Linked DNA regions of Homo sapiens: region 1 is linked to region 2. The links come from fine-mapping of genetic effects on gene expression. A gene starts in region 2. The other region holds a variant in brackets. All regions are shown on one strand. Distances are from middle to middle. Region 1 overlaps KAT6A (lysine acetyltransferase 6A). Region 2 holds the start of KAT6A (lysine acetyltransferase 6A).

Region 1 (12,035 bases), 79 kb after region 2:
GCATAGTAAATGTTGAACTGGGATGAAAATCCGAGTAGTCTGGCACCAAAGTCTGACTCTTAACCATTGCTTTATGTTGCTTCTCTTATATAAAAACAGGAAAGAAAAAGTTGTTACTGTGACATTTCACATGTCACTCTCCTGATCTTGTCTCAGTTGTTAATATCTATTAGGTGTACAAATCACTGGATAGGTTCTTCCTATTGAGGTGATGGCTAAGTCCCATTTTTGTGTTCTTTGGATGTAAAATAATTTGAATGTTTTCATCTATTAGCAGAAATCAGAAATTGTGGACTAGAAAGCTGGGCTATGTCTGGAGGAGGTGGGGCAAGATTCAGTAGCTAGTTTTGTCTTTTTAAAAATGTCTGTAGTAACTCACCTTTGATGATATGTAAACGTCTTCAGGCTTGTCAACCTCCCTTTATTATCAAAAGTTTTACTTACTTTTTTTACACGTAAGACTATCTTGAAGGTGATATAACTGAAATGAATGGGCATTAGCAGCCTGAAATGTACAGAACCAATATTGTAGTCTATATTCAAAATCTTAAATCAAGCTTTGATTTTCCTATAAAATGATCTTTTGATTCCTGGCCTTCGAAGAATAACCCATCCTTGTGTTTTAGAGATAAAAGTATAACTTTCAGTTGGTGCAGAGATCACAGTGTAGTAGAACTTTATACCTGGAAGGATCTTAGTTGTTCTTAGTCCAGTTCTCATTTTACAGATGAAGGCACTGACATATGTTTAGAAAAAATGTGATTTGTCCAAGTCGTACAGCTAGTAAGAGAGAATTATGACTAGAACAAGTCTTCTGACTCCTGGCCTGTCATTCTTTGCACTATAAGTAGGCTTCCTGGCAATAGATGTTTCTAATAATAATATTAATTTTCATTCACAGAGTACTATTTATAGTTTGCAGAATATTCTTAATAATATAGATTTTAATAAAGCTGTAGGTTACTTACTAATTATATGTTATGTATTAAAAAGGAACCTTACAAGTATCTTTTTTAATACTTACCCTTTCCCCTGTTTAATTGTTTAGATCAAAAGGTCCCTTCAGCAAAGTTCGAACTGGCCCTGGAAGGGGTAGGAAACGAAAAATCACTCTTTCCAGCCAATCAGCATCATCATCATCAGAAGAAGGATATTTAGAGCGGATAGATGGCTTGGACTTCTGCAGAGATAGCAATGTCTCCTTGAAGTTCAACAAGAAAACCAAAGGGCTCATTGATGGCCTTACCAAATTTTTTACCCCTTCCCCTGATGGGCGGAAAGCTCGGGGGGAAGTGGTGGACTACTCTGAGCAATATCGAATCAGAAAGAGGGGCAACAGGAAATCAAGCACTTCAGATTGGCCCACAGGTAAGAGTTTAGAACAGACTTAGAAACAAATAGTATTCTGTACATGTATTATTCGGGATAACACTAATTATCTATAATGGATTTATATTTGATTATTAACAATTGGTTATAGAATATAAGAACACATTGAAAAAACATGTAGATGATACTGAGGTGATAACTGTGGCAGGAATTTAGAGGATGGAAATAAAGTTGCAGAATGGGACAGTAGGAACTCTTAGGCAAAAGGAAGCTGCTTTTTTGTAGAACCACAAAGAATCTGCCTAGAGAAACTTGGGGTGTAACCTTGAGGATTACTTTACATTTCACAAATTACTAAAGAAATCATATGGTGAATGTTATGATGCCTGCTTATTCCAGGAAGGAAACTGGAAAGAATAGAACTGGGTGAAATGCTGTTGATCTAAGCATAAAAAAAAGACCAAAATATTTGCAGATGTGATGAGGTCATTGACTTTTCTACTTCAGATCTTGACAAATATAGTTGTAAGTCATGGATTGCACTTAAAAAGGGAGAGACAGAACCACAGCTCCAGGCTGCTTATGTATCAGGCTAAGTTCCCTAATTTTCAAAGTAGAAAACATCTGTGGAGAGGACTTAATAATGTGGCAAATCATTCAAGTCAGAGGAGAAGAATTTGATTAACTGTCCAATAAATTAAAGCTTAAAATAGTCTTATTGCTGAGCCTTGAATTTAGAGATACTAACCCTGTGAAGGAAGTAGAAAGGGCTTGAAGAAAGTAGAATGAGAATGAACTCTTTTGGACCACAAGGGCCAGAGGTGTAGTGTCTCATCTACTACAAGAGAATTCCCTGACCTTGGTTTCCTCCCTGAATGTCTCCTTGGTGAGGGAGAGTGTATTCACTGCTCTCATTCGTGGTTGATTGTCCAGTGCAGGAGAGAAAGTCCTTGTAATTGTCAGAGTCCCCTTTGTATGCTTTATTGATTGGTCTTTTACCATAGTGATGATCAACTAATTACTCTTTAAGCATTCAAGACTCTTCATGTCTTTATCAACCTGTAGATAAGTTCCTGATCTGAGCATGTTTATCTAAGAAAATATGCAATCCGTTTAGATTAAACTAGGAAAGAATCTCAGAGCAAATCCTAATGAAAGACATTTTTGAATTAACCATTTGTACTGGAGACGGTTTATTAGAAGAATCTACTAGAAAGCTTTTGAAATAGAAATTGTTAGAGCAAGTGTATCAAGTATATGGAGAACCAATATTGAATTTTTGACAGTGGTGTGAGCGTTTGCTTTAATAGGCTCTGTCATTTTCTTTATGAATTATAAAGTTTAAGTACCGAATGCTGTATTAGAGAGGTGCATGCATCATGCACTAGGGGGCATTAAAGTCACATAGTACCTTTAGATTGTACTTTTTTCTTCCAGTTTGAGAATGTTGTCAACAGTGAGTCCTTGACTTTTTTCTTCTTGTGTTAAGTTAATAACAGATGGCCCATATGTGCAGTTGACTTGAGAACTGTCACCAATTGGTCTTTTCAGCCATACTTATAAAGAGAGCAAATGAGCCCAACAGCAGTGTCATCTTCAAATGCAAAGGATAATGATCTTCATAAGTCCCAAATACTCTCTTCACTAGTTTTTTGCCAACTTGAGGAAGTTCCATCATTTAGTAGATAATTATCATACGTTTTCATATTTACCCAGATGATTATCATCTGGGTAAATAGAGTTTGTGCTTTAAAAGGACAGTGTTTTAAAGTTTGTGCTTTAACTTTAAAAGGGCACCCAGAATGTGATGGGAGTTAGTACTGCTGACATCAGTTAAGGTAGCTACTCAAGAGGTTTTTTTGAACGTTGATGCATTAAACCTATACTAAAAGTGTCAAATTTATACTATTTCAAAATGAAATTTATATTCCTTATATCATTTTTCTGTCTGCCTTTCTGTGTATTAAAATGTAATCTTTAATGAAGTTTAAATTTAGTTATATAATATTTTTAGGAAGCTTTAAGACAATTCAGGATTTCCACTATAAGGCAGATTTAATACATAAATATTATTTATTGAGTAGCATTCTTCTAAGAGTCAGTTTAATGCTATATTCTTCGTTATATATTAAGTTCTTCAAATTGAAATAAAGACCTGAAATTTTTTCTAGTTCATGTATTAATCTGGGGACAGTTAACATGTGAGCTCTTTTTTTATATGTAGACAATCAGGATGGCTGGGATGGCAAACAAGAAAATGAGGAGCGACTTTTTGGGAGCCAGGAAATCATGACTGAGAAAGATATGGAATTATTTCGTGATATCCAAGAACAAGCACTGCAGGTAAAGTTGGATATTCAGGTTAGACAATCAAGCAACTTGTTCATGGCTGAGAAACAGCAGATTAATTACATTGTGGGTTAAGCAGTAACAGCAGTTTGCCTAATCTCAGAATAGTTGTGGTTTGTGTGTATATGTAGTTCTGCTGTTTATAATATTCCTTTCAAACCCATGATAACTGCTTTGGTTTTGCAGATAAGCACATGGCTTTGACTATCAATATTAAATAAGCTTGGTTTATTTTTTGTCTTACTGTATGAAGAAGAATTTGGGATTTGACCAAAAACAAACAAAAAACAAGCTTCTCATGAGTGATAAAACACCTATATTTATTAATTCAAGAAGTATTTCATGCCTGTAATCCTAGCACTTTGCCAAGGTGGGTGGATTGCTTGAGTCTGGGAGTTTGAGACCAGCTGGGGCAAAATGGCAAAACCCCATCTCAAAAAAAAAATAGAAAAATTAGCCAGGTATGTTGGTGCACACCTGTAGTCACAGCTATTTAGGAGGCTGAGGCAGGAGAATTGCTTGAGCTGGGGAAATGGAGGTTGCAGTGACCTGAGATCATGCCACTGTACTCCAGCCTGGGTGACAGAGTGAGACCCTGTCTTCCAAAAAAAAAAAAATTGCAATTCTTTGTGACACATGGCAAGATCGTAAATATATAGACAGAGTCTATGTGCCACATGCTGGAGATGCCAGTGAATGACTGAATTCTTTCCCTGAACTATAGGAGAGATTTGTGAATAAGTAATGTCATTAATATGAAAAGTTCAATTATAGAATACTTGATGTTTTGGGAGAATAGGGAAGCCAGCTTCTACTTCTGCCTGGGGAGGTCAGAGGAGGATTCATTGAGGGGCCTTAAAGGATATGTAGGAGTTGTACATATCCCTTAAAGGGATATGTAGGGAGTTGGTTCTTATATAATCAGAAGGAACAGAAGTGAAGGTGGAATAGACTTGAAGATAGGGGAAAACATGCTTAATTGTGGGAATTAAAATGGCTCAGGATAAAGAATATAGGGTGTGGAGAATGGCAGGAGGTGAGGTTGGAAAAGTGCAGGGGCTAGATCATAAAGGCTCTTCCAGATTATGTTCATTTATTTTTTGTCTTTTCCTTCTTTGCCACCAACAAATGTACCATGTAAGCCAAGTTCTCTTTTATCTTGAAAAGAAGAATTTCTAGGCTGGGCACGGTGGCTCACCCCTGTAATCCCAGCACATTGGGAGGCCGAGGCGGGTGGATCACTTGAGGTCAGGAATTCGAGACCAGCCTGGCCAGCATGGTGAAACCCCGTCTCTACTAAAAATACAAAAATTAGCCGGTGGCACACGCCTGTGGTCCCAGCTACTCGGGAGGCTGAGGCAGAAGAATCACTTGAATCCGGGAGGTGGAGGTTGCAGTGAGCCGAGATCGTGCCACACCACTCCAGCCTGGGCAACAGAGTGAGACTCCATCTCAAAAAAAAAAAAAAATTCTAAGGCTGATGCCGAGGGTTCTAGGGAAAACTCTTCATATTAAGAGACCCAGTGGTGGTGAATAGACTGTTGATGTCGGTCATTATGTGAGTACTTTTGGAAAAATAAAACAGCAGTACAAATACTCAGCACGCATTTACTCAGCATTCTGCTGTATTATGATTTAACAAAATATTGGCTTTGATTCAGGTGGATCTGGGTTCAAGTCTTGATCTGTCATTTACTAACTTCTCCTTTGGGCAGGTTGCCCTCAAAGCTTGTTTCCTTTCATGCTAGTGAGTTATTATAGGTACTCTAGTAGAAATCTACATGGACTTCAGTGGGAACTGAAAGGAGGCAGTAGTTATGTTCTTCCTGACTGAAAGAATTTTTTTTTCTCCTCCCGAGTAAGTTGCAGACATAATGTGTTAATATCCCTTTACTCCTAATTTTTTGTGTGTATTTCCTAAAAACAGAAATGTTCTCATACATGACCATGGTCCAATCATCAAATCAGGAATTTAACACAAATTAAGTACTATTATCTAATTTAGTTGTCACGTCTCTCTAGTCTCCTTCCAATTGGGAACAGTTCCTCAGTCTTTATCTTTCATGACCTTGACAGTTTTGAAGTGCACAGGTCATTTATAGAATGTCATCACTTTGAGCTTGTTTTATTTTTCATGATTAGAAAATTCCACAGGTGTGCTGTGTCCTCCTCAGTGTGTCACATCAGAAGGCATGTAATATCCAAGTTCTCATCACAAGTGCTGCTAACAGTGACCACCTGGTTTAGGTGGTATCCATGTTTCTTCTCTAACATTGCTTTCTACCTATAATTAAGTATCTTGGGGGGACATACTTTGAGACAGAAATGCAGATAACCTGTTTTTCATCAAACTTTTATCTACCACATTTAGCATCCAGAGATGATTTTTGCCTGAATCATTTACTTTGTTGGTGGCCAAACATTATTTTCTAATTCTATCATTTCTTTGCCATTTATTAATTGGCATTCTATTGTAAGGAGAAGCTTTTTCTTCTTCCTATTTGTTTATTCATTTTGTTTAAACTCATAGATTATTTTATGGTTATAATCCATTGCTATTAGTATTTATTTTGATGCTTAAATTGTTCCAAATTTAGGCAGAGGGGAACTCCTTTCTAGAAGCTCCTCTGTCCTTTTAACACATCATCATCATTTTTATTTACTTCTGGCCACAGCAAGATGTTCTAGGCTCTTACTGTTGTAGCCATAGATTCTGGCTTTTAGTGGTGAACAAGAGTAAATGGTAGCTCTATCCTGTACTTGCTTAGGCCCACAGAGATGTCATCTTGATTTTTTTTTTCTCTGTCATACTTCACATTCAGTCCATCAGCAAATCCTAATGGTTCTGCCTTCAGAATATGTCTGTATTTGCTACTGCCAACCCACTGTCATCTCTGGCTTAGGCTGCTATAATTGCCTCCAGACTAAACTTGCTTCTGCTTTTGCCACCACCCCACTCTCTAGTCTATTTTCTTCATACAGCGGCCAGGGTAATTATTTTTGAACGTAGGTTGGATTATACCACTTCCTTGCTTAGAAAACCTTTCATGTCTTACAGTCTTCTTTAGAATTAAAAAAAAAAAAAAAGAGTCTGTTCTCTCATCTCCAAGGCTGTATATGATTTTGTGCCTGCCTCCCTCTTTGGCTGCTCTTTTTGCTCTCAGGCTACTCCAGCCACAGCCGCCTCCTCTTCCTCAGACACACCAAGCATGCCTGCCTTGGGCCTTTGCAGTCGCTGCACCTTGCCTCGATGGCCCTTCCTCTAGAGTCGATGATTTAGTAGGTTCACTGCCCATTCCATTTAGGTCTTGCTCATATCCACACGAAAATAGCTTACAGCCCATTGTGTCACTCTATCCCCTGACCTGCCTGCTTTTTCTGCATAGTACCTACCACCTCTTGAATTTAAATTTTTTATTTCTAGAATGTAAGTGCCTTGAGAACGAGGCCTTTCTTTTTTTTTTTTTTTTTAAATTATACCTTAAGTTTTAGGGTACATGTGCACAACGTGCAGGTTTGTTAC[G/A]TATATGTATACATGTGCCATGTTGGTGTGCTGCACCCATTAACTCGTCATTTACATTAGATATATCTCCTAATGCTATCCCTCCCCCCTCCTCCCACCCCACAACAGGCCCCGGTGTGTGATGTTCCCCTTCCTGTGTCCATGTGTTCTCATTGTTCAGTTCCCACCTATGAGTGAGAACATGCGGTGTTTGGTTTTTTTGTCCTTACAATAATTTGCTGAGAATGATGATTTCCAGCTTCATCCATGTCCCTACAAAGAACATAAACTCATCCTTTTTTATGGCTGCATAGTATTCCCTGGTGTATATGTGCCACATTTTCTTAATCCAGTCTATCATTTCTGGACATTTGGGTTGGTTCCAAGTCTTTGCTATTGTGAATAGTGCCGCAATAAACATACATGTGCATGTGTCTTTATAGCAGCATGATTTATAATCCTTTGGGTATACACCCAGTAATGGGATGACTGGGTCAAATGGTATTTCTAGTTCTAGATCCTTGCGGATTCGCCACACTGTCTTCCATGATTCTTGAACTAGTTTGCAGTCCCACCAACAGTGTAAAAGTGAGAACGAGGCCTTTCTTTTTGGTCACTGCTATCTACTGAGTACTTGGAATATAGTAAAGGCTCAGTAAATATTTGTTTAATGAATGGATATTGAATGAAATTTTCTTCTGGGAGAAATGGGGCAGGAGTTGAAATAATAGAAAGGTGCAAGAAGGATGACCAAAGAGAGTTAAACGGGTTGCTGAGCCCTGCTGAGGCTCGGGGAGACAGTGTAAATGCTTATTGACAGTAATCGGGCTAATCCTATGTTTCTTTCCAGCATTTGATTAAACTCAGCATTGTCTGTGTGTGTATTGGCACCAAGGAAATAAACAGCTAGATCTTGGAAGTCTAGTTCATGCTTATTTTTGTTGGCAGTGCACTGAAATTCTGATGATGGTGCTATTTCTCCATGAGGCTTATTCATTTAGCATCATGCACCTGCCTTGGTACCAGAACTATAGGGCAAACAAAAAGACACAGACTCTGCCTTCATGAAGCTTTTAGTTTCACAAACAGACAGATAATAAACACTCATAAAAATAAAACTGTACTTACAAACTGATAGTCGGAAGGAAATGAGAATGCAGTGAGGGGTTCTGACGGGCTGGGCTACCTTGCTGAGGGTTGGGGTTGGAGTGTTTATGAGAAGGGAAGACTTTTGAAGAAGTAACAATTTATACATAGTTCCAAAAGAGTATTCAAAAGTCAGCAGAGTAAAGAGCTAGAGAAGAACATTTCAGAGACAAGTGGATTGCCTATGTAAACGTCTAAGGGTGTGAAAGAGGTTGATAAACTTAAGGAACTGAAGTTCAGTGTAACTCAAATACAGTGAACAGAAGAGTTGCATAAGGTGAAGCTGGGGAAATAGACTGAGGCCAGAAGTTAGAATTGGGGTTTTTATCATAATTGCAGTGGGAAGACATTGAATGGTTTTTAGCAAGGAAACAGCAAGATCTGTTTCATTAAAAAATGGTTTTTCTTGGCTACTACATAAAGAGTGGTTTAGAATTAAGCAAGAGTGGAAGCTGGGAAACCACTTTGCAGGCTTTTCCGGTGATCAGGATGAGAGAAGATGTTAGCTAGGACTAGAGGGGTGGTGGTAGAAATGGGAGAGAAGTGGATGGATTTAGATATATTTTGGAGTTGGAATCAGCAGAACTTAGTGATGAGTTTTATGTGTAGCTTGAGGAAGCAAGAGATGATCAAAGATGACTTCCAGGTTCTCTGACTTAATTTAATAAAGAAAGTGGTTTGAAGCCACTTGGGAAAGTTCATGTTGACTAGATAAGAGGACATTTTGAATAATGAAAGGATTCATAAATATAGTGCAGAAAGTCATTTTTGAGAGCATAGATATAGCTTAGATGATGCTTGAACCTGTGTTTCAAAAATTTTGCAGGTAGATTTTATTACAGTGTCTTTGGTAGTCTTACAGCAGCATCAGCAAAAGACATGATAAAGGAATTAATATTAGAATCCATCCAACTAATAACACATTGTTTATTGAGTGCCTGCTATGTTCTAGAAACTATGGTACGGGGAGGGGCTATCAGAAGGACATAGTTTCTGTTCTCTTAGAGCTTATAGTCTGGAAGGGACTATCTTGAATAATCAAACTTTGCATGGAACATTATCTAAGTCAAAGATAATTGAAATATTTAGCAAGATTTTTTTCAAAAGGAGTCAGCCACTTATTGGTTTTAATTTTTTTAAAAAATTATTGCAGGCAGTAGGGTAAGTATGGATGTAGTTTGCCTAGTACTGTGTTCCATCATTAGCTATACAACATACACTTCCATGAAAAAGAGCCACCTCTGAATACAAAAGTGGAAGCATAAAAAAATTAGTAGTATAGGTTTTTGTTCTAGAATTTTATTTCAACTATGATCTTACGAGCTTGGAGAAACTATTTTTCTTAAAAGACTCTGTCAGTAGAAAGAAGCATTTGTGTGCATGTGTCTTTATAGCAGCATGATTTATAGTCCTTTGGGTATATACCCAGTAATGGGATGGCTGGGTCAAATGGTATTTCTAGCTCTAGATCCCTGAGGAATCGCCACACTGACTTCCACAGTGGTTGAACTAGTTTACAGTCCCACCAACAGTGTAAAAGTGTTCCTATTTCTCCACATCCTCTCCAGCACCTGTTGTTTCCTGACTTTTTAATGATTGCCATTCTAACTGGTGTGAGATGATATCTCACTGTGGTTTTGATTTGCATTTCTCTGATGGCCAGTGATGGTGAGCATTTTTTCATGTGTTTTTTGGCTGCATAAATGTCTTCTTTTGAGAAGTGTCTGTTCATGTCCTTTGCCCACTTTTTCATGGGGTTGTTTGTTTTTTTCTTGTAAATTTGTTTGAGTTCATTGTAGATTCTGTATATTAGCCCTTTGTCAGAAGAGTAGGTTGCAAAAATTTTGTCCCATTTTGTGGGTTGCCTGTTCACTCTGATGGTAGTTTCTTTTGCTGTGCAGAAGCTCTTTAGTTTAATTAGATCCCATTTGTCAATTTTGGCTTTTGTTGCCGTTGCTTTTGGTGTTTTAGACATGAAGTCCTTGCCCATGCCTATGTCCTGAATGGTAATGCCTAGGTTTTCTTCTAGGGTTTTTATGGTTTTAGGTCTAACGTTTAAGTCTTTAATCCATCTTGAATTGATTTTTGTATAAGGTGTAAGGAAGGGATCCAGTTTCAGCTTTCTACATATGGGTAGCCAGTTTTCCCAGCACCATTTATTAAATAGGGAATCCTTTCCCCATTGCTTGTTTTTCTCAGGTTTGTCAAAGATCAGATAGTTGTAGATATGCGACGTTATTTCTGAGGGCTCTGTTCTGTTCCATTGATCTATATCTCTGTCACATGCACACGTATGTTTATTGTGGCACTATTCACAATAGCAAAGACTTGGAACCAACCCAAATGTCCAACAATGATAGACCGGGTTAAGAAAATGCGGCACATATACACCATGGAATACTATGTAGCCATAAAAAATGATGAGTTCATGTCCTTTGTAGGGACATGGATGAAATTGGAAATCATCATTCTCAGTAAACTATCGCAAGAACAAAAAACCAAACACTGCATATTCTCACTCATAGGTGGGAATTGAACAGTGAGAACACATGGACACAGGAAGGGGAACATCACACTCTGAGGACTGTTGTGGGGTGGGGGGAGGGAGGAGGGATAGCATTGGGAGATATACCTAATGCTAGATGACGAGTTAGTGGGTGCAGCGCACCAGCATGTCACATGTATACATATGTAACTAACCTGCACATTGTGCACATGTACCCTAAAACTTAAAGTATAATAAAAATAAATAAATAAATAAATAAATAAATAAATTTTTTTTTTTAAAAAAAGAAAGACGCGTTTGTATTCAGTTCATTCCAGTGGAGCATGACCACCTTCTTGAAATATATAGAATGATTTTTACATAAAATATCAAAGAGCACATTGTATTTTCATACAGATTTTAATGCTTTCTGATTCTGAAGGATTCCTTTGGTTTTTGTATGGTTCTGGAAAGTTACAGAGCATTTTTGAAATCTGTGCGGGTTATTAAAATTTCTTTGCGTGAAGAGTTAAATCATTATTAAAAATACAGTAAGCTAGTTTCAACAACTTTATTAACCCCATGATGTAGAGGTGTTACCCCATTTTACATATGAGGAAACCAACACTATTAGTTCAGTGACTTCCTGTAAGTTTTTATGTTAGTGGAGCCGAAATTAAAACTTAGGCCATGTGACTTCTAATTCTGTACCCTTAATCACAATAACATCCTGCATTATTCTGTATACGGGATGTCATGGGGGTAGCAAAATCATTAGGCATGTGCTAAGTGCAGGCAGGTAAAGGTGCATAGGAAGATACACAGCAGACAATAGCTTAGAGTACCAATGAAACATAGTGCATTGCTGTATTAAATGATTCAGACTTGTCTCAGATGTTCACAGTATACTAAGATGTGTGAGAATTGGCGCAACCTGAGATGATCACAGAAGCAGCAGTCCTAAGGAATGATGAGGATTTAGGTAGATGGAGAGAACTAGGGCTTATCAGATGGAGTAAACAACATTAACTTCAGCTTTGAGGAAGCAATGACTACTATACAGGAGTCCCCGCGTATCCACCAGTGATACGCTCCAAGATCCCCAGTAGATGCCTGAAACCGTGGACTGTACTGAACCCTGTATGTACTGTATTGTGTTACATGAATGTAGTCTGTCTCTCTCTAAATCTCTTATTGTACTATTGTACTGTACTAACTCTTCTG
Region 2 (12,035 bases):
AAATGTACAGATAGGTCTTTCCATTCGGCTGGTGAAAACAGGCACAATTTCCATTCATATGGGAGCTCTGGGAATTGTTTTTCCTGCCCTTTTTTGGTGGTTTGTTTTCCCAATTAGTTTCCAATTAGTCTCTTCTTAAATATGTGCAAATCAATGCTCATCCAAAGAAGCAAAAGGACCCCTCTGTAGATATTTGGAGTTGTATATACATATGTAGCTTTCCCCTTTCTGGTTCTCTGTCCTCCAAACTTTAGCTACGTCGGCCTCCCTGAAGCCTGATATTTGTCTCCTCAAGTCAGCAGTATTGCTGGGCTTTGGGCTCTGCCACTGCCTGTCCCATGGTCTGGAAACTGTTGCAAGGCAGTAGGCTGGGGCAATTAGATGGCTCAACTTGTTTACTTCTCTTACCTTAATCACTGTCCTACACTGTCTATTGTCCAATGTCTAAAAACCATTGTTTCATATATTTTGTCAGAAAACCATTATTATTTTTTTTCCAGATGTTTAAGAGGGAAGGATAAATCCAGTCCCCATGACTCAATTGTTGTCAGAGCAAATGTTCATACCTGGAAAGCATTTTAAAATACAGAGCCAAATTAATCTCTCAGAAATTCGGATCTAGTAGGTCTGGTGTGGAATTCTGGACTCTTTTACTTATTAAAAAGTACTGAGATGATTCTGATACACTGAGAGTGTTGTAAACCATATCTTGATACCTCAAGCAGAGCCTTGTTCAGACATTTTTTTTTTTTTACTGAGGGGGAAGGCAAGATCATTTCATATGAAAAACATTTCCTGGTTCTGAGTACGATGGGGGTACTTATAGCCAACCAATAATCCAGCTGAAAACAATTAGGAGAGCCAGCTAAAACATAAAACATCTGTTTGAAGGCTGCTGAGGCAACCAGAACTTATGAGGACACAATCTCAGAGAAGGGGAAACTATACATAGAGGTGAGCTGACATTCAGCAGTACCTTCATTCCTTGGGGAAATTCTGGGCATAAGGCCAGAGTCTGAGTTTTGGTTCTGAGTATAGAAAGAGGCCCTAACAGGCAAAGACACCACCAGGGATGATTCTGTCAGTTCAGCAGAGTTGGAGAGACAAACTTAAGAACAAGAGGGGCCAGATTCCCAGTGAGAAGGGAGGGGTAAATAATTGAGCCCAATAATGTCAGTCTCCCTCAAGTCATTTTCCAAATTCTGAAGATGCATGAGACAGAAGGTTAAGAAGCTTAGCAGAAAGGCTCTGAAAAGCAGAGTGAAGAGATTTTGACCGTCTCATGGTTTTGCAGAAACAAGAATTAGAGTTCAGTATCCACTGGGATGAAGGGTCCCAGGGAACACACACGACTCTCAGTTGGAACCCCTGGAGGCTTATGCTACTGGAGCAGCAGCAAAAAAGAGGTGAATTAAATCTTGCCAAAACCCAACCCCAAGTTAACTCAGTCTCTGGTTGATTAAGGTGGTTAGCTCTCACTCTAAATGCTTTGCAAAGGACAGTAGGAATCCTTCTCTGGATGATGATAATACTATCCAGAGCCTCTGCAATTTTTCATACTTGAAAGTGTGACATCCTATTAAAAATTCTCAGGCAAGCTAAGAGCCAGGAAAAAAAATGACCGAAACCAATGGAAAGAATATACAATAGAAATAGATCCACAGAAGATTCAGCTATTGTAATGATTGGAAAGAGCTTTAAAATATCTAGGGTTAAAAAAAAATCTAGGATTGATATGTTCAAGAAAATAAAGGCAACAGCAGAGAAAATACATATATAAATAAATAATTTCTCCAAATGAATTTGATTTTAAGAATCGTATGAAAATTCTAGAACTTAAAAATATAATAAACAAAATAAAGAATTCACAAATGGGTTTAAAAGTACACAATTAAATAGAAAATATACCGACTCATGCATAGAGAAAAAAATGGGGGAAAAAAGATGATAGGAAATACAGATGGTAAACAATGAAAAATTCTGACATATGTATAATTTAAACCCTAAAAGGAAAGGAGAGAGAAGAGACAGTGATCAAGAATTTCCTAAAAGATATAAACCCACAAATGCAAGGGACTCCGCATACACCCATTGCACTCATGAACCCAAGTAGGATAAATACAAAGAAAACCACATCTACACACGTCATAGTAAAGCTGTTGACAACCAAAGACAAGAAAAAATCCTAAAAGGAGTCAAAGGAAAAAAGACATTACTTTCAAAGGAATAAAAGGGAGTGACAGAAACCAGAAGACAATGGAAGAACATCTTCAAAGTGCTGGGAAAAAAAAACCAAAAAACAAAAAAAACTTGCCAAATCAGAATGCTATACCCAGCAAAAATATGAAGGATAATGCAAAGTTTTAGGCAATAAAACCCCACAAAAAACAAAAAGCAAAAACTCAAACAACCTTGGAGAGAACTTGTCATCAGCAGACCTGCTGTAAAACAGGGGAATTATTCAAATAGAAGGAAAACCTTCAGACAGAAGCACAGAAATGCATATTGGAATGAAGAGCAATATAAGGATAAATATGGAGGTTAATCTAAATGAGTACTTATTGTACAGAACAATAAGTATAAATTCTTGTGTGGCTTAAAATACACACACAATTAAAATCCTTGACGACAATAAACACAAAAGGGAGATGGGTAGGTGGAGATACAGTATTTTAATGTCTTAGCATTCCCGGGGAAGTGGTAAAAGTAATTATTTTGTATAAGATCATAAGTCAAAAAGCAATGTTGTAATCTCTAAAACTAGTAATGTATAATTTAAAAATTAATAGAGGGGGTTAATGATATAGTTAAAATATTTTAATTAATTCAAAAGAAGGCAAAAAGCAGAGAACAAGGAATGTGAAATAGGTGATCCAAAATAAATGGTAAGATGGTAGGCATACATCCACATATACCAGTAATTATATTAAATGTAAATGGACTAAAAATGTTTCCTGTTGAAACCAGGACAGAGCAAACTTCCAATTTCAGGCTGGCATGGACTCTGTATAAGACACAAGTACCAAGTACAAGTGAAAAGGCAGGGATTCCTAGAGCAAAATATGCAAGGGGGAAATAACCTTTAGTTGCCAGCTCCACAGGGCTGAATCGTGAGTAAAGTTTGAGCTAAGAAAAACTATCCTTTCAGAGTGCAGATTGCTTTTTAACTTGCAAATGATGAGGACTTTAATCCGTCTTTGTTGCAAGATTTTTATTTTGAGAAGACCTCCTGAATGTGCCATTTAGTTATGCAAATGTAAAGCAGAGACTCTTTATGGAAGCTGTGTGAAAAGCTCAACTGTGCTTTGTTGTTATAAATTGTTTTAAATTCTTGCTACTGTTTAATCCCCAGTTTGGTCTTTTCACAGGATGGCTGTGGCTAGTTTTCTTCCAAATTATCCAAAAGTAAACACAACTCATCTCTGTATTATTTTTCTTCTGAAGGCCACACACTCTAGTCTCACATGAAGAACTCATTGTCTTTGCATTAATATGACTTTATCTGCCCTCTTTGGGAAATAAAAATCTGCCTATTCTACTAAAAGAAAATACATATATATATATATATATATATTTTTTTTTTTTTTTTTTTTTTTTTTTTTCCTGGAGGTGATTTCATTACAAACAGGGACCATTTTACCTGAGAATGTGTCTATCTGATTCATCTAGGATGAAAGAGATCCTTTCTATTGGATTATCATGTATTCCAAATTTCTCTACTGCTTTGGAGATGGGGCTTGGAAGTAGGCGATGAATGGCAACTCAGTCAACCTCACTACATTACACTTCTGTTTCTGTCAGTGTCAGGATATTGATTAGGCTGGACCATGATCTGAAAAGTTACGTTATTCTTACTGAATGGTCCAGAGTCTACCGTATGGAGGGTAGGGCTATGGATTAGAGTGGAGACGGGATAGATAGAAAAGTTTGGGTTCCCTCTTGCTGTGTCTCTCAGGCTGGAGTGTAGTGGCGATCATAGTTCACTGCAGCCTGGAACTCCCGGGCTCAAGCAGGCCTCCCGAGTAGCTGGGCTACAGCAGCGCCCCGCCACAAACGGCTTTCTTAACGGCTTAAAAAATTGTTCATTCACGAGCAACATTTTTTTATTTTAAACCGCCTACTACAGTACTTGTACAACATTATTCTAGGTGCTGGAGATGCAGAGTCATTATAGGAGAGCATTTACCAGTGAATGTATTCGGAATATATATATATATATATATATATCACATGTAAGTGCAAAATGACTAGAGCAAATGATACTACTACAGAAGTTCAGAAAAGGAAGTCAGCATGGAAGTTAAGGCAGTGGGTGAGAGGGAGGCCCTTAAAAGCTAAAGCTGAGATAAAATGAGGTATTGCGGGCGACAGTCTAGGCGGGGTGTGTCGTATGGGGTTGGGGACAGGGCAGATAAAGGTCAGGCAGCAGGATACACGTCCATGTCAACGATTAAACATTTAGTGTCTTTTTCATGTCTACTGTCTTTCTAGTGAATGCAGAAAAAAAAAAAATGCATGACTTGGCCAGGTGCAGTGTCTCAGGCCTGTAATCCCAGCACTTTGGGAGGCCGAAGAGGGCGGATCACTTGAAGTCAGGAGTTCGAGACCAGCGGCCTGGCCAACATAGTGACACCCCGTCTCTACTAAAAATACAAAAATAAGCCAGGCGTGGTGGCGGGCGCCTGCAGTCCCAGCTACTCAGGAGGATGAGGTAGGAGAATCGCTTGAACCCAGGAGACGGAGGTTGCAGTGAGCCAAGATCGCACCACTTGCACTCCAGCCTGGGCAACAGAGCGACACTGTCTCAAAAAAAAAAAAAAAAGTATGACTCAGTCTCTGCATCAAAGAGTTTAAAGTAGATGAAAGGCAAGACAAAGAAACGTCCATACAGCCAGTAGTGGACAGGCAGGCCATGAAGAACCGCCTGCTCGTGGTTCCAACGCCCTAAGTATGGACAAGAGTTCCGCACAGGGCAAGAAGGGAAGACCGGCTTTGGAATAAGACAAATCTCAGTCCCAGGCTCAGGTGCGCGCCACATACTAGCTGTGTGACCTTGTCCAAGTCACACGACCCAGGTCTGTGGAGTCTCCCATAAAATGGCTCTAGTGAGCTCCAAGAACCCTCTCAGCTGCTGGGGGAGGGAAGAAATGAAGTCACTGCTGAAAGGGGTTAAGACGGGTGCTTCTGGTTCCACCCTCTCCCCAACTCTTCCCACCGACACAGGAGAGCCGTCGGGGGCTGAGGCGAGCTGCCAGGGGTGAGGACGGGAAGCCGCCTCCTCTCCGCCCCCCAGGCCCCGCCCTCGGGCTCCGGAAAGTCGCTGTGCAGGCAAATGAGTGGGGAGGGAGGGCTCACTAACTGTAAACAGACGCCGCCGAGAGTTCCCATCCTGCGTGGCTGCCGGATTTCCGTGCCACACTGAAGCCACCCCACCCAGACTCCTGCCCTCAGTTTCCCCAGCGGTGGCATGGGGTGCACCAGCTCCTCCTCTCCCGGGTCGCCGTCTGACTTAAACGCGTGAGACGGGAGAGGAGGAACCCCCGCTCCCCAGCCTCCAGCCCCACCAAGTCCTCCTCCTCCCCTGGCTTTGGCCTTTTGTACCGGCCCCACGTGACCCCGCCGGCCGGCTCTTCCCTGCTGCCCCGCCCCGCCCTCCGGCCTTTCCCGGCTCTCGGCCCAGCTCTTCCCGCTCTCGGCCGCCCCCCACCCGCGCTGCCGGGCCTCCGCCTCCCCTCGCCGCCCGCCCAGGCTCTTCCAGCTCCCTCCCCCAGGCCGCCGTTCCCTCGCGACGCTCCCCTCCCCCCGCGGCTGTTCCGCCGCCTTGCCTCCCCTCCCCCCGGCTGGAGCTCACTGTCTCCAAGATGGCGGCCGTGTCAGTTTGGGGCATCTCCGCGGTCCGGCCCGGGGCCCCGGGATCTCGGCTGTCCTTCCTCCCGGTAAGTAGCCGAGGGGCCGTTCCCGGCCGCCCCCGGCCGCCCAGCCCGAGGCCGAGCCGCTCCAGGGCCCACTCCGCTGCCTCGCGGGGTCGGCGGGCCGCTGCAGGCCCCGCCGCGGCCTGCGCCGCCTCCCGCTGCTCTGCGCCAGGCCTCGGGCTGGGGCGCCGTGGCCGCCCCCTCGCGCCCGCCCGCTCGCTCGCTCGCTTGCTCGCTTGTTCGGCGCCCGGCTGCCCCGGCCCGCGGCCCGCGCGCCGCCGCCCGGCCCCGCGCTCGCGGGCCCCGCGCCCCCGATCCCGCCGGCCGGGCCCGCCCTGGGGGAGCCGGCGGGTGGGCGGGCGGCGAGCGGCCCAGGCCGCGGAGCCTCGGGCTGGCGGAGCCGGCGAGCCCGCTCTCCCTCGGGGCGCGCCCACCCGCCCGCCGCGCGCGTGCCGGCTGTGCCGGGCCGGGCCGCTTCTCCCCGCGCTCGCGGGCGCTCGGGTTCGGGCTCGGGCTCGGGTTCCGGCTCCGGCTTTGGCTCCGGCCGGGGGCGCGGGGATCCGAGCGGGGCTGAGGCGGCGAGCGGGGCTGACAGGCCGGCGGGTGTTGTGGTGCGAGGCGCAGCACGTGTGGTGTTGTGTCTGCCGGGCTGTCAGCCCAGCCGCCGAGGGGAGGCCGGGCGCCTGTCAACCTCGCGGCTTGGCCCGGTGCGCGACTGTCAGGCTCCCAGCAACCCGCGCCGCCCTCGAGCCGGCCCCCAGAGCTTAGGGTGCGGAGCTGGGCCGGGGCTATGCACCGCTCTGAACTCCTTCACGTGATTTCATTGTTAACTTGTGCTCGGGGTCTGTTTCCATCGCGTGGAAACGGTGCAGCGCCCCGTCGGCGAGCTGCCGGGCTGTGCAGATCCAAGTTTTTAAAGTTTCTCGCTCTTTGAAAAGAGAGCGCGAAGACGTGTTTAGGGGTGGGGAATGGGGACGGGAAGGACTGTCGGAAGCGAGTTGCGCTCGCTCTAGCCGCTCGTGTACTTTCCGGGAGTTAAGATCCGAGGCTGCAGGCGCTTGACTTTCCGAAGACCTGGAGACTGATGACAATCCCGACTGGAAAGACAATGAGTGACTGTCACTCATTCTTTTACCTGCGAAGCTTAGTCAATTAGGACGTTCGTTCCCAGCTTGTTAAACTCAGGATGTAGCTTCTCATTTAGTTTAGACTTAATATCTGTATAATGAGCTTACTTGGAGTAATGATACTCTGATTTCTATCCTCTTGAGACCCTCACCAAATTGAAGCATGATTCTCCCAGGGGGCTTCTTTTTAGGCAGCTGATTTAAAAACAAATCTTGGCTCAGGTTTGAATGTTTGCTTCACTCTTTTCTTTCCTATCAGAGTTAATAGTAATATCTCTTTCCTAGTGTGTATTAGTTTTCCGTTTGATTTTAATGTCACTACCAAGAATAGTTGCTGTGGGAGCCATTTGTCTAGCATTGTTTATATTGTAATGCAAATGATCTCCAGAATGAGAGCAGAAGTTCTAAAAAACACTTCAGTTAAACTTATTTTTGGAGGCAAAAGAGTTAGATTCAGAATTCAGTACTTTAGTGATTAAACAAGATTGCATCTACCAGATTCTTTTATAGGGATACTGACTTTGATTCAGAGAGACAGTACATTTCTGTTTATGTTTTATTAATGTTCGTTTCAGGACAGCAATCTTGAATTTATATCTTTATTATTTGGGCTTCTCTTTAGTCCTACAAGTAGCCAGTGTATTTCTTTTTCTGTACCGTCCGTTTGATATGTAGTATGTGCGTTGACCCCAGTGATTCTGGGCCTTCCTCATTTCTAGTTTTCCTGTCTGAATTACTTACACGCAGTTTGACAGTTGTGACTCTCTTCAGCATATGAATAGAAACATCTTAGTTTGGGTTAGGAGAAGCTATCAGCATGTAATTCTTAAAATTTGAATGAAAGTGGATTATTGTTAAATTCAGTAAGCACTTTTACTCTAGGCTATTTTCAATAGTATTTTTGTTTCCATTAGGAGAGATTAAGGTAATACTGTACTTAAATTATAAACTGGGTGTGCATATTGTATTCATTCTTTTCATGTAAGAACTAAAATTTTCTCAGTCGTTTTCTGCCTTATTGACTGTTTTTGTCTACTCTGAATGTCTAGAATTTTGAAAGATGAAAGATTCACTTTTACTTTCATTGCAGGATTCTTTCTACTAATCCAGATACTTGTTGAAGTGCTGACTAGTTTCTTGGGGAAAGATGTCAAGGAAGAGTTGAAATTCCTAGACTGGTGAGCAGAGATTGCGGAGTACAGAATAGCCATCACCCACTCTGGTTAGTGGTAGCTTAAAGGTCATTCTTAGAACATGTCATCGTGTTTCCTCATTGTATCCTAATTACTCATCTTTTTTTTTTCTTTTCTTTTTTTTTCTTTTTTATCCCAATGGTTTACATACATGATTGTTTTGGAATATTAATAGATAAGTTTGGAAATTCTTAAGGGTGCCTAGTAAACACTTGCTGTTTGATTGCTTTATGATGAGGATGCTTATTTTCATTCGAAATAGGTCTTGGTAGAAAACTGACCTTATTTTCATTGCTTTTCAGGCATAAGATGCACATTTTTCTGCTCTGGAGCCGGGAATGAAATATTCTTGAGTTCTTACAACTTTATGACGAGACCCATGTGTGGTGCTATTGAGAAATTCATTGGGAAGTTGGAAGACATTTCAATCAACAGGTTGTTTTGGTTTCTATAGTACAATTGGGGTGGCATTCTGTTTTGTGAAAGGAGGAAGGACTTAGGCCAGAAAACTCATATGCTATGGTTAACTGGTTCCCAGCCTCCGAGAATCTTGTTTTCCATGGTGTAAAACTTACTCAGCATCAGGATAAGGGATAACGACTCTATGGATATACAGAATCCTTCACCATGGTAAAACTCGCAAACCCGCTTTATACTGAGTGGATTTTGGAGGCCATCAAAAAAGTGAAAAAGCAGAAACAGCGTCCTTCAGAAGAAAGGATATGCAATGCTGTGTCTTCATCCCATGGCTTGGATCGTAAAACTGTTTTAGAACAATTGGAGTTGAGTGTTAAAGATGGAACAATTTTAAAAGTCTCAAATAAAGGACTCAATTCCTATAAAGATCCTGATAATCCTGGGCGAATAGCACTTCCTAAGCCTCGGAACCATGGAAAATTGGATAATAAACAAAATGTGGATTGGAATAAACTGATAAAGCGGGCAGTTGAGGGCTTGGCAGAGTCTGGTGGCTCAACTTTGAAAAGCATTGAACGTTTTTTGAAAGGTCAGAAGGATGTGTCTGCATTATTCGGAGGCAGTGCTGCCTCTGGCTTTCACCAGCAGTTACGATTGGCTATCAAACGTGCCATTGGCCACGGCAGACTCCTTAAAGATGGACCTCTTTATCGGCTCAACACTAAAGCAACCAACGTGGATGGGAAAGAGAGTTGTGAGTCTCTTTCCTGTTTACCTCCAGTGTCCCTTCTTCCACATGAAAAGGATAAGGTAAGAATGGCATATGCTTCGGGGTTTATAGAGCTGATGATATAGGATGCTACAAATTCACATTTCTGGGAAGTTATATTCAAGTTTTTTGTTTGGGGACTTCTGTGGAGTGATCACCTCTGGTTTTTTATTGGTGAGTTGTAGCTATGAGAGCTTCATAGATTTGTTCTGGTACTTTGAAATATTTGAAGCCTAAGATTAAAAATGTAGAATGTTAATCTGACTAAAAGAACTTATTTACATTACAATGAAAAAGTGACATATGAGTTTAAAACTTTTTTTTAAATTTTTTTTTATTATTTTGCTTGAGGAGTACTCCAGCGTGAGACTTTAAAACTTTAACTAAAGGTTCTTAGAACACCTTACTACTGGAAGTTGATGAGCAGCCAAATCATGGAGACTTGAATTTGAAACAAGCAGATGACTCTGAGAACATTTTTCTGTTTTCCATTTTGTTGCAGATTACTCGTTAGACAGAAATGAGACAGATTCTCATGACCCATAGGCGCAACTAAGCAAACTTAGCAATTCTTGTTTCTGCTGTTTGTATTATAGCTTTCTGTCATGTATTATGGCTTTGCATATGATGAAGTCCTAAATGCTATTTATGACAGCTGTAGTTGCATGGGACAGGAATACAGTATCCTAAACTAGAAAAGTTCTGGAGGGTCTGGAACAGTAGTTCATGCCTGTAATCCCAGCGCTTTGGGAGGCTGGGACAGGAGGATGTCTTGAGCCTAGGAGTTTGAGCCCAGCCTGAGCAATATAGCGAGACCCCACGTCCACCAAAAATAGAAAAATTAGCCAGGTATGGGCGCGCCTGTAGTCCTAGCTACTTGGGAGGCTGTGTCGGGGAGGATTGCTTGAGTACAGGTGTCTGAGGCTCCAGTGAGCTATGCTGTCACCACTGCACTCCAGCCTGGACAACTGAGACCCTGTTCTAAAAACAAAAAGAAAGGTAAAGTTCTGGAGAGTTGGGAGTTTTGATGCCCAGATGTGTACTTTACTCTGTTGTGTTTTAGGATGTTATTGTATATAGTTGAAATTATGACTTCTTAAACAGTAAATTTTGGTGCTTAAATAGATATTTGGAGATTAGGAGAATTTTGTTAGTACCTGTTTTTTACATTGACCTAGTATCTTAGCTGTAAATTTACTTAAGGTGCTCTGAATTATAGTTCCTTGGAGAGCAGTGATGCTTTAAGTTGCTGCACACCTTGGTAGACATAAGTAAAATGATCTTCATTTTGCTTAAGATGATGGAGGATACTCCTAGGGTGGAAAGATGGTAAAGTTAACATTGAATGTATTTTGAAAATTGGAGATTTGATCTCAATTTGTTGTATTATTAGCAGCCCACTGAATACCTGTAGATTTTTCTTTAACAATTGAAAATTAACGGTATTTTTCTTTGATGAAATTTTTAGAGATCTATTTCAGGGTTCAATTTTCCCTGTGAACATTGAAATAAAACATAATCTTACTGTTATTACCCTTGAAATGATTCTCATACAGTCATGAATTGATAGAGAATCTCATTCATAAAATGGCTCTATGTAATTTGAGCATTTATTAAAAGTATATATTAAAAATTCAGGGTAGACAAGTAATTAAAATGCTTTATTCTATATTTAAGTGCTGTAAGAACTCTTACCTGTAGAAACTTTATCACATGTGGCTGAATTTAAATACAGTTATCGGATTTCTACAATTATTAAATGATCTAACAGGTTAACTGCCTGGAAACAGGAAATAATTTATAGTTAGATCAGTTCAGTGCCATACCTGTGAATTGGATGTTATAAGTTCCTGTTAGGCCACCTGTTTGCTTTTATTTATTTATTTTTGAGACAGAATCTCGTTCTGTCACCCAGGCTGGAGTGCAGTGGTGCAGTCTCACTGCAACCTCCGCCTCCCAGGTTCAAGCGATTCTCTTGCCTCAGCCTCCCAAGTAGCTGGGATTACAGACATGCACCACCACGCCCGGCTAATTTTTGTATTTTTAGTAGAGACGGGGTTTCACCTTGTTGGCCAGGCTGGTCTCGAACTCCTGACCTCGAGTGATCCACCCGCCTCTGCCTCCCAAAGTGTTGGGATTACAGGCTTGAGCCACCGTGCCTGGCCTGTTGTTTGCTTTTATTGTAATTACACTTGCTTGAATTATCAATAGATAATTTTAAAAAATATTAGCTATATAAAAATGTCATTTGAGCATATTTTTAAAAGGTAGTAAATATAGTACAGTGCAAGACAAATCCAAGTCCTAGAACCCTGAGATTTTACTTTTGGAAGGGACCCTGAGAACCGTCTAATCCAAGTCCTTATTTTGCAGCTGAGCTAAGGACCTTTGTTGAGACCATTTCATAGCACCTTTGCATTAAGAAAAGTTTAATTCAGTAGAGATGTGCTGTTTTGCTTTGACTGGAGTGCAGTGGTGTGATCTCAGCTCACTGCAACCTTCGCCTCCCGGGTTCAAGCGATTCTTCTGCCTCAACCTCCTGAGTAGCTGGGATTATAGGTTTGCGCCACCACGTGTGGCTACTTTTTTTTTTTTTTTTTTGTATTTTTAGTAGAGA

The links. PIP is the estimated chance that this variant, and not a neighbour inherited with it, causes the effect. A credible set is the group of variants that fine-mapping cannot tell apart.
Region 1: its variant is the best candidate, but not a certain one, in a credible set for the expression of KAT6A in whole blood (TOPMed, PIP 0.72).

The regions. Positions count from the first base shown.
Region 1 is chr8:41,966,341-41,978,375 of GRCh38, reverse strand. KAT6A (lysine acetyltransferase 6A) reads left to right here. Exons shown (of 17, transcript NM_006766.5): 7 at 1,049-1,368; 8 at 3,554-3,672. Among named protein-coding and RNA genes, the nearest start is that of KAT6A-AS1, 79 kb to the left of the region's middle. The variant G/A (reference allele first, on the strand shown) is at 7,202.
Region 2 is chr8:42,045,802-42,057,836 of GRCh38, reverse strand. It overlaps KAT6A (lysine acetyltransferase 6A), which reads left to right and starts at 5,850. Exons shown (of 17, transcript NM_006766.5): 1 at 5,850-5,936; 2 at 8,535-9,459. The coding sequence starts at 8,860. It overlaps KAT6A-AS1 (KAT6A antisense RNA 1), which reads right to left and starts at 6,087. Exons shown (of 2, transcript NR_136589.1): 1 at 5,852-6,087. RefSeq lists silencers at 2,952-3,246, 5,207-5,366, 5,557-6,186, 6,287-6,756 and enhancers at 4,716-5,236, 5,237-5,758.